3 linked regions of the Homo sapiens genome follow. The protein of the gene in region 1 purifies or fractionates together with the protein of each later gene. This does not show direct contact. Each region holds a gene or a part of one and is shown on either strand. Other genes may lie near its edges. The genes, in order: MSH5, GLG1 and SPG7.

Region 1 (3,651 bases):
GTAATTTAATTACCCACACATTCTTCAGTGCTTCAGGTGCAGATCTTTAATCTCAGCCACAGATGGGAGGGAGAGAATTCTCAGTGGAGAAGAGAGCTGGATTTAAGGTCGGGGAGGAATGCGTATTCCCCAAATGGAATCAGACAGGGCATGAGATCATATAACTTGAAGAATCATCATATAATCTAATGAACTAAGGACAGGTGACATATTTATTAATATTTCTGTATACGAATTTATTTTAATTTATTAGGAAATACCTCTAACGTACAAAAAGATGTAAATAATAATATAGGGCCAGATGTGGTGGCTCACGCCTATAATCCCAGCATTTGGGAGGCTGAGGCAGGAGGATTGCTTGAGGCCAGGAGTTCAAGAACTAAAAGCTGTACAGGCACCAAGAATATGACTGAATGTCACAGTATGCTCTAAAGGGCACTGTCCTAGGAGTCTGGAGACATGATTTTGAGACTTAGCTGTTCTCATTGGCGGTATGACTTTGGGCAAGTTGCTTATCTTTTAACGGTTTCATTTTCTCAGTTGTTAAATTTACAGTTTGGTTTAACTAAAGTCTCTCCCAGTACGAGCAGGGCGTGAGTCAGAGATACCTAAGTGTTTAGTGCAGCGCATGTGCTTTCTAAAGTGGGGATGGCTATTTACAGACTGGCCTACACTGTTCTGGTGGGAGCCCTCAGTGACCAAGGAGCAGAGGTACCTGAAACCCACCCTTGAAGCCATCTGGATGCTCCGCTTCATTCAAATCTGGGGTGTTCTAACCCAAAGTAACTGGCCACAGACTGCAATGTAAGATACAAATCTTCAGGACCTAGTGTGTGCACATGTTGGCTCTTATATAAGATGGCATCCTTAGTACTTGTTCTATGTAGAAAAGAATTTGTGGGCTCACAAGTCCCTACAGAGTCTCACACTCTCATGGCCAATAAGTATACAGGGATACCCGGAATTAGACAAACACAGATGAGACATTTATTTCTGTATATGAATTTATTTTATTTATTTATTTATTTTTTGAGACAGAGTCTCACTCTGTCACCCATCCTGGAGTGCAGTGGCCTGGCTCATTGCAAGCTCCACCTCCCGGGTTTACACCATTCTGCCTCACCCTCCCGAGTAGCTGGGACTATAGGTGCCCGCCAACACGCCCGGCTAATTTTGTTGTGTTTTTAGTAGAGACGGGGTTTCACCGCGTTAGCCAGGATGGTCTTGATCTCCTGACCTCGTGACCCGCCCTCCTTGGCCTGCCAAAGTGCTGGGATTACAGGCGTGAGCCACCGCACCTGGCCTGAATTTATTTTCATTTATTAGGAAATACCTCCAACACACAAAAAGATGTAAATAATTAGCCGGGCGTGGTGGCTCATGACTGTAATCCCAGCACTTTGGGAGGCCGAGGCAGGTGGAACACCAGAGGTCCGGAGTTTGAGACCAGGCTGGCCAACATGGTGAAACCTCATCTCTACTAAAAATACAAAAATTAGCCGGGAGTGGTGGTGCACCCCTGTAATCCCAGCTACTCCAGAGGCTGAGACACGAGAATCGCTTGAACCTGGGAGGCGGAGGTTGCAGTGAGCTGAGATCGCACCACTGCACTCCAGCCTGGACAACAGAGCAAGACTCTGTCTCAGAAAAAAAAAAAAAGATGTAAATAATAATACTATCGGGCCAGGTGCAGTGGCTTATGCTTGTAATCCCAGCACTTTGGGAGGCCATGGCAGGAGGACTGCTTGAGGCCAGGAGCTTGAGAACAGCCTGGGCAACATAGCAAGACCTCGTCTCTATAAAAACTATTAATAGTAATACAAATGGCCAGGCGCAGTAGCTCATGCCTGTAATTCCAGCACTTTAGGAGGCTGAGGCAGGCAGATCACCTGAGGTCACGATTTTGAGACCAGCCTGGCCAACACAGCGAAACCCTATCTCTACTAAAAATACAAAATTTAGCTGGGCATGGTGGCACACACCTGTAGTTCCAGCTGCTGGGGAGGCTGAGGCAGGAGAATCACTTAAGCCTGTGAGGCAGAGGTTGCAGTGACCCGAGATCCCGCCACTGTACCCTAGCCTGGGCGACAGAGCAAGACTCCATCTCAAAAATAATAATAATAATACAAATATCTATATATCCATCAGCCAATTTAAGAATAAGACATGCCGGGCGCGGTGGCTCATGCCTGTAATCCCAGCACTTTGGGAGGCCGAGGCGGGTGGATCACAAGGTCAGGAGTTCAAGACCAGCCTGGCCAAGATGGTGAAACCCCGTCTCTACTAAAAATACAAAAATTAGCTGAGCACAGTGGCGGGTGCCTGTAATTCCAGAACCTGGGAGGTGGAGGTTGCAGTAAGCCAAGATTGTGCTACTGCACTCTAGCCTGGGCGACAGAGCAAGACTCTATATAAAAAATAAAATAAAAAAAAAGAATAAGACACTATTGGCCGGGTATGGTGACTCACGCCTGTAATCCCAGCACTTTGGGAGCCGAGGCGGGCAGATCACGAGGTCAAGAGATCGAGATCATTCTGGCCAACATAGTGAAACCCTGACTCTACTAAAAATACAACAATTAGCTGGGCATGGTGGCGCATACCTGCAGTCCCAGCTACTCGGGAGGCTGAGGCACGAAAATCACTTGAACCCGGGAGGTGGAGGTTGCAGTGAGCCGAGATCGCATCACTGCACTCCAGCCTGGCGACAAAGCGAGACTCTGTCTCAAAAAAAAAAAAAAAACGAAAGAATAAGACGTTGTTGAAGCCCCTTAAATGTCCCTCCCCAATCCTTTTTTCTCTGCAGTGTTGACCATTATTATGAATTAAAGCTTATCATCCCTAATGGGACAGTTATGTTTTCACAGGAAGAATATGAAAAGATGAATGTCTGTTGCTGTTACCCAGAGACACTTTCACAGCTAAAAAGACATACAAACTCATACTGACTCACCGTCTCTTACTCAGCCTCAGAGTGAGCTGCAGTGTTGGCACACAAATACCTCAACACACTGCTCTCCTTCTAAAATATTGACAAGCTCCGTTACTTATATACATGGAATGACACACGGTCTTATCCGTTGAAACTGTGATATGTAGACACAATTATGCTCACATCTAGCAATTTTCAGTAGATACATGTAAACACACCTGAATGGGTAGGACACTGCACTTGCCACTACATTCCCATAGCACATCGTGGATACATATTGCCACAATCCCCAGGGACTGCAAGCACACTTTTTGGCAAACTGAGATCAAGATGATAGATGTAACTTGTAGTACCCCCACCCAAACCCTCACTTCCAGGCTATGGTTCACACGTCCGACTCATGACCTGGGGGAGCTCAGTTCTCGTCTGGACGTCATTCAGTTTTTTCTGCTGCCCCAGAATCTGGACATGGCTCAGATGCTGCATCGGCTCCTGGGTCACATCAAGAACGTGCCTGTGAGCCCAGGGTGGAGGGCAGGGAGGTGGGGAAGGAGGTTGAGGGCTGATACTGGGCAGTGGGCTTCTTGAGGGGCATTAGAGTGAGGGAAGAGAAAACAGCGGCTGTAACCTTGTCTGACTGTAGCTGATTCTGAAACGCATGAAGTTGTCCCACACCAAGGTCAGCGACTGGCAGGTTCTCTACAAGGTAAGGCCTTCCT
Region 2 (3,651 bases), on another chromosome or scaffold:
GCTCACTGCAACCTCTGCCTCCTGGGTTCAAGTGATTTTTCTGCCTCAGCCTCCCGAGTAGCTGGGACTGCAGACATGCGCTACCACACCCGGCTAATTTTTGTATTTTTAGTAAAACGGGGGTTTCGCCACACTGGCCAGGCTGGTCTTGAACCTCTGACCTCAAGTGATCTGCCTGTCTTGGCCTCCCAAAGTGCTAGGATTACAGGTGTAAACCAGTGCACCCGGCCTCTTTTCTTAAGCAAGGACTGTCTACTTTAGCTTTGTCCTTGTTCTTTTTTTTCTTTGAAAGTCTTACTCTATCTCCCAGGCTGGCTGGAGTGCAGTGGCATGATCATGGCTCACTGCAACCTCAAACTCCTGGGCTCAAGCTCTCCTCCCACTTCAGCCTCCCGAGTAGCTGGGACTATAGGTACACAACACCACTTAGCCTTGTTCTAAGCGGAAATATACGTGAACTCATGAATTTGATGTGGTAGGTATACTTCTCTAATATATATGAAACTAAATATATGACTATAAAATATAAGTACCAACACATACCACCTGAAATCATCTTGCATATTACCAATAGCACATGCTTCAGAAAGCACTAACACTGGATTATCTTTCTCTGTTGTTTTTTTGTTTTGTTTTGCTTTTGGTTAAGACGGAGTCTCGCACTGTCACCCAGGCTGGAGTGCAGTGGCGCGATCTCACCTCACTGCAACCTTTGTCTCCTGTATTCAAGCGATTCTCCTGGCTCCACCTCTCTAGTAGCAGGGATTACAGGCACCAGCCACCATGCCTGGCTAATTTTTTTTTTGTTTTTTTTTTGAGACAGAGTCTAGCTCTGTCACCCAGGCTGGAGTGCAGTGGCGCGATCTCGGCTCACTGCAAGCTCTACCTCCCGGGTTCACGCCATTCTCCTGCCTCAGCCTCCCGAGTAGCTGGGACTACAGGCGCCCACCACCATGCCCGGCTAATTTTTTGCATTTTTAGTAGAGACGGGGTTTCACCATGTTGGCCAGGATGGTCTCGATCTCCTGACCTCGTGATCTGCCCACCTCGGCCTCCGAAAGTGCTGAGATGACAGGCGTGAGCCACTGTGTCCGGCCGAGGCTTGGCTAATTTTTGTATTTTTAGTAGAGACGGGTTTTCACCATGTTGGCCAGGCTGGTCTTGAACTCCTGACCTCAGGTAATCCCACCCGCCTTGGCCTCCCAAAGTGGTGGGATTACAGGCGTGAGCCACCGCTCCTGGCCTTGGATTATCTCTTAAGATTCTTCCAGCTCCGGTGCTTTGTGATTTTGTGATCTGTGGGAATACAAAACGTGTGCAAGAGAGTCGTAGCACAGGTGGAAAGGGGAGATGCTTTGGGGAATTATTAAAGGGGCTGTATTGACCGAAATAGAGAACTTGAAAATGTTTTCAGTCCAGGTCATGAAGGGTCGTATATTCACCTCTAGCTGGTTCTCCAAGTAAAGTCCAGAAATGGGATGTTTTTATCCCTACCTCAGATAAAAATATTACAGCAGATAATTGAGAATTACCTGTAAAGTAGCATTGTCGTTTATGGCAAATACTTTTTAAGAAATCTCTTGATGAGAATGCTTTACAGTATATAGTTGCTTAATAATTCATTGTTCTGTAGAAGGAAATAAAATACTTGAACAGTCCAAAAGATGAAATGCTGTATTTCTCTTTTGTGCATTTCTCCTAATGTGTTCAAAACAAATTTACTCAGGAACAATAACAAAAATCTCCTCTTTATATAAGTTATATATATATATATTTATATATTTGTTGTTGTTGTTTTGAGGTGGAGTTTCGCTCTTGCTCAGGCTGGAGTGAAGTGGAATGATCTCGACTCACTGCAACCTCCACCTCTCGGGTTCAAGCCATTCTCCTGCCTCAGCCTCCCGAGTAGCTGGGATTATAGGCACTTGCCAGCACACCCGGCTAATTTTTGTAGAGACGAGGTTTCACCATGTTGACCAGGGTGGTCTCAAACTCCTGACCTCAGGCAATCCACCCACCTCAGTCTCCCAAAGTGTTGGGATTACAGACGTGAGCCACCGCGCCCGGCCTTATTTATATATTTTTAAAAGCAGCAGTTAAAATGGCTTATAGGCTATCATGTAAATTAATTTTTCTTCTTTCTTTTTTCTTTTTTTTTTTGAGATGGAGTCTCATTCTGTCACCAAGCTAGAGTGCAGTGGCGCGATCTCGGCTCACTGCAACCTCCACCTCCTGGGTTCAAGTGATTCTCCTTCCTCAGCCTCCCGAGTAGCTGGGACTACAGGCGCCCGCCACCACGCCCGGCTAATTTTTTGTATTTTTAGTAGAGACGGGGTTTCACCATGTTGGCCAGGATGGTCTTGATCTCTTGACCTCGTGATCCGCCCGCCTTGGCCTCCCAAAGTGCTGGGATTACAGGCGTGAGCCACCGCGCCCGACCAATTTTTCTTCTTTCAGCAAACATTTATTGAAACCTGTGTGCAAGACACTGCTCAGTGTTCAAGTATACTACTGCTACTTATAATGGTTAGCATTTACTGAGGGTTTTCTGTGTGCCCTGTTCTGAGGGACTGGATGCTTTCTAGGCGTTATCTCATTTAATCTTATGAGAGATGTTTTATTATTATCATTCTTATTGATTTTGTTTGTTTGATTTTGTTTTCGAGACAGAGTCTTGCTCTTGACGCCCAGGCTGGAGTGCAGTGGTGTGATCTCAGCTCACTGTAATCTCTGGCTCCCGGGTTCAAGCGATTCTCCTGCCTCAGCCTCATGAGTAGCTAGGACTACAGGTACACACCACCATGTCCAGCTTTTTTTTTTTTTTTTTTGAGGCAGTCTCACTTTGTCACCCAGGCTGGAGTGCAGTGGTGCGATCTCAGCTCACTGCAAGCTCCACCTCCCGGGTTCACGCCATTCTCCTGCTTCAGCCTCCCGAGTAGCTGGGACTACAGGCGCCCGCCACCATGCCCGGCTAATTTTTTGTATTTTTTAGTAGAGATGGGATTTCACTGTGTTAGTCAGGATGGTCTCAATCTCCTGACCTCGTTATCCGCCAGCTTCGGCCTCCCAAAGTGTTGGGATTACAGGCGTGAGCCACTGCGCCCGGCTAATTTTTGTTTTTTTAGTAGAGGCAGGATTTCGCCATGTTGGCTATGCTGGTCTTGAACTCCTGACCTCAGGTGATCTGCTTGCACCACCATCTATCACCGGAGCTTTTTTTTTCTTTTTTCTTTCTTTTTTTTTTTTTTTGAGATGGAGTCTCACTCTGTCATCCAGGCTGGAGGGCAGTGGCATGATGTCAGCTCACTGCAACCTCAGCCTCCCTGGTTCAAGCGATTCTCCTGCCTCAGCCTCCTGAGTAGCTGGGACTATAGGCGCACCCCACCACGCCCAGGTAATTTTTGTATTTTTACTAGAGACGGGGTTTCGCCATGTTGGACATGCTGGTCTTGATCTCTTGACCTGGTGATCCTCCCGCCTCGGCCTCCCAAAGTGCTGGGATTACAGGCGTGAGCCACTGTGCCTGGTGAGTTTTGTTTTGGGTTTTTTTTTTGTTTGTTTGAGACGAGGTCTCACTCTCTTGCCCAGGCTGCAGTGCAGTGGCATGATCATGATTCACTGCAGCCTCTGCCTCCCGAGCACGAGTGATCA
Region 3 (3,651 bases), on another chromosome or scaffold:
GCCAGGCATGGTGGCTCACGCCTGTAACCCCAGCACTTTGGGAGGCCGAGGCAGGTGGATCACTTGAAGCCAGGAGTTCGAGACCAGCCTAGCCAACTTTGCGAAACCCCGTCTCTACTAAAAATACAAAACTCAGGCATGATGGCACACACTTGTAATCCCAGCTACTTGGGGACCCCCCCCCCCCACAGACAAACATGCCGCACCTGTGGCAGTAACTAGGCTTGAGCCCGACTGTCTTTCCTCCCCTGGTTCTGGCAGGAGAGGCGGGAGATTTTTGAGCAGCACCTGAAGAGCCTGAAGCTGACCCAGTCCAGCACCTTTTACTCCCAGCGTCTGGCAGAGCTGACACCAGGATTCAGTGGTACGTTCTCAACCCGCAGCCTGGGCAGCGTCACGTCCTGAGGGCAGGTGGTGTCACCTGCGCAAACAGCATCGAGGCCTCCTCTGTGGGGTGGGCGCTGCTCCTTCTCTGGGGGCCTCTGCTCAGTACAAGCCTGGGAGGGAGCTGATGTGTATGTGGGGCAGCAGGAGGTCCAGACGGCACCCGCACTCCGTCCTCCGCCCCGGGGTGGAAAAGCAGACGGTGGTTCCCGGTCTGTGTTGTTTCCAGAGATAGTGGAGTTATGTTGCTTCCACACAGTGACCAGTCATGCCGGCGTTTCCCGTCAGACCCAGAGTCAGACCACGCAGTCCCGGCAAAGCCGCCTCCCTCTGACCCTCACGGTCTCTGTCAAGTTGTAGAAATAGAAATCATACCTCAAGATGCTTTTCCTGCTGTGTGGTTCACATTTTAAAAGTTAATGTCAACAAACCTCCCTTTTATTATGAGATGAATTTGCCCTTTGATTATTCGTTAGGGTCTTTCACTAGAATTTTGTGGTTACTAGAGAGCCTTTAATTTCTTTGCCATCAATGCTCATGAGCTGTTAGGTGGAATCAGCCACAAGATGGGGTGTGGAACTAACTGCCCTTGGGAGGAGAGACGGGCGTCAGGGCGGATGGAGCCTGGCGGTTCTGTGTCTCGTCTGTGGAATGGCCTCAGTGGAACACGGTGCAAGTGCCTGCCGCTCTCCCCACCCCTGCTCCTGGCGCCGGCGCCTGCCGCTCTCCCCAGCTCTGCTCCTGGCGCCAGCTCCCCGTGCCTCTCTCCCAGACGCTCTCACCAGCACTCTTGGTTCTTGGTCTCTTTTCCCTCTTTGTTCTTCCTTTTATTTATTTACTTATTTATTTTGAGACAGAGTCCTACTCTGTCGCCCAGACTGGAGTGCAGTGGCGTGATCTTGGCTCCCCGCAGCCTCCGCCTCCTGGGTTCAACCGATTTTCCTGCCTCAGCCTCCTGAGTAGCTGGGATTACAGGCGCTCACCACCACGCCCGGCTAATTTTTGTATTTTTAGTAGCAATAGGGTTTCACCCTGTTGGCCAGGCTGGTCTCAAACTCCTGACCTCAGGTGATCTGCCCACCTCAGCCTCCCAAAGTGCTGGGATTACAGGGGTGAGCCACCATGCCCGGCCATCTTTGTTCTCCCTTGAGGGCCCCTTCCTCCTCTTAAGCCCTGATAGCAGAAACCCACCCACCCACACCGTGGCTGTTTGTGTTGACAGGGGCTGACATCGCCAACATCTGCAATGAGGCTGCGCTGCACGCGGCGCGGGAGGGACACACTTCCGTGCACACTCTCAACTTCGAGTACGCCGTGGAGCGCGTCCTCGCAGGTACAGGGGGCGCGCCCTGGGTGAAGGCCCTCCTTAGCAGGGCTTGAACCCCAGAAATACCCAGGCAGGTATTGAGAGGTGAGGTGGATGGAACCATCACACAGGAAGGAACACACGTTGCGTTTCAGTTCTGCGTAACTCATGTCTTTATGATACCTTGTACTTTTCCTTAGTTTAAAATATCACAGATTTACCTAAGAGTAGACGCTCGTCCAACAGAAATAAAAAATGCCTTGCCAAAGAAAGTGAAAAAATAAAAATAAAAAATGCCCCCCAAAAATAAAAATAATAAAAACTAAAAATGTCTTGCCAGCCTGGGTGTGGTGGGCTCAGCCTAGCCCCAGCCTCATGGGGGCTGAGCTCCAGCCGCTGACTGTGGGCCGGAGGGCTGCTGCCGCCCGTGGCTGTGGAGGGACAGCCGTGCTTTCAGCGCAGCAGGGGCTCTGCGGAGAGGTGTGGATCTGCAGCACCACCTCTGGTGAAACTCATGGTCCCGACCGTCAGTAGGAACGGGAGATGAGTTTTGGTGACGGGTGACCGGTGGGCTGACCGCCTCTGACTGCCGTTCCGTGGCTGCTCAGTGTGGGGTCTGCGACGTCTGTGAGGAGAGAGGACCAAACTGGGAATCGGAGCTGCTGGAGGTTTCCATAGCTATGATGGCAACACCCAGACGTGATCAGTCATCTCATGGAATGGAGTTCAGACCCGCACTGTCAGTGTGAGACAGGTTGAACGTTTGAAAAGGGAAGTGGTTCTTGCCCCAGGTGTTTGAGGAGCACGAGCCTCCTTTGCGAGCTATCCCTGCGAGAACCGAGTTCCTCACCCTCAATTCGAGTGAATTCCTAGCACGAACACGCCTCTTGCAGGTCCCCAGGGCTTCAGCTTGGGAAAGCAGTGGGTTCCTGCAGAGGAGTGGGGCAGCTGCTGTGCCAGACACTGCAAAACACACCTGGCTTCTCTCCGACAGCCCTGCGGGTCGAGAGGACTGGCGCTGCCTGTGTCTTACTGAAATTTATTTTCGTGTAACCATTTACTTTTATGTGGAAATCGAAAAGCTTTTGATAATAGTAGCAAAGCAGGAAGGACTGAGTGGGAACCACAAGCCAGTTGAAAGAAAATACATGACGTACTTGAGTGCTCAGGACCACGAGCTGATTCAAGTTGTACAGAATGGACACTTACAGATGTGTGGAAAATCTGAGACAGGAAATGAAGCCTCACCAGTAAGCTGAACAGGGGAGATTTAATGCAAACATTTGTCCCTGGCTGGGCACTGTGGCTCATGCCTGTAATCCCAGCACTTTGGGGGCTGAGGCAGGAGGGTTGCTTGAGGCCAGGAGTTTGAGACCAGCCTGGGCAATACAGCAAGACCCCATCTCTTAAAAGAAAAGAATAAAGAGTATTAGCCAGGCATGGTGGTGGAGCACACCTCTGGTCTCAGCTACTCAGGAGGCTGCAGCAGGAGGATTGCTTGAACCTGGGAGGTTGAAGCAACAGTGAGCCGTGATCGCACCACTGCCCTCCAGCCTGGGCAACAGAGTGAGACCCTGTCACTGACAGAAAAAAAGCCTTGTCCCTGAGGCAAAAAGCTTCTGAAGGGGTGAGTAGAAGCCATAAGGATCCAGAAAGTGATGGGGATGGGAGCTGCGCCTCCAGGTCTGAGGGGAGAGGGAAAGTAAGCAGGAGGCCCGTAACTCAGAGGAGGCCTCTGCCCATCCTGCCAGGGAGAAAGTCAAAAGCTGCTGTTCTGTGACCCTTGCCCCGACCCTGTGGCACCCCCCCAACCATGGGGCAGGAGGAGACACTCCTCAGAGGGTTGCACTTGTTCCTAAAAGCAGCAGGAGCTATTTCGATGATTGCAACATTTATAAAAGAAGAAATCACGACCTCCTTCAACAGCCCTTTGACCTGAAGAGTGTCGTTTTGAGTTGGGG

What was found.
Region 2: the proteins of MSH5 (region 1) and GLG1 purify together in Homo sapiens (affinity purification with mass spectrometry; one large-scale study listed by BioGRID and IntAct). This does not show direct contact.
Region 3: the proteins of MSH5 (region 1) and SPG7 purify together in Homo sapiens (affinity purification with mass spectrometry; one large-scale study listed by BioGRID and IntAct). This does not show direct contact.

What each region holds. Positions count from the first base shown.
Region 1 is NC_000006.12:31,749,992-31,753,642, forward strand, and holds part of MSH5 (mutS protein homolog 5), read left to right. Parts: intron 1-3,309; coding exon 3,310-3,448; intron 3,449-3,575; coding exon 3,576-3,638; intron 3,639-3,651.
Region 2 is NC_000016.10:74,597,029-74,600,679, reverse strand, and holds part of GLG1 (Golgi apparatus protein 1 isoform 3 precursor), read left to right. Parts: intron 1-3,651. UniProt on the Homo sapiens protein: Binds fibroblast growth factor and E-selectin (cell-adhesion lectin on endothelial cells mediating the binding of neutrophils).
Region 3 is NC_000016.10:89,546,397-89,550,047, forward strand, and holds part of SPG7 (mitochondrial inner membrane m-AAA protease component paraplegin isoform 1 precursor), read left to right. Parts: intron 1-261; coding exon 262-364; intron 365-1,606; coding exon 1,607-1,717; intron 1,718-2,298; coding exon of another isoform or gene 2,299-2,321; exon of another isoform or gene 2,322-2,386; intron 2,387-3,651. UniProt on the Homo sapiens protein: Catalytic component of the m-AAA protease, a protease that plays a key role in proteostasis of inner mitochondrial membrane proteins, and which is essential for axonal and neuron development.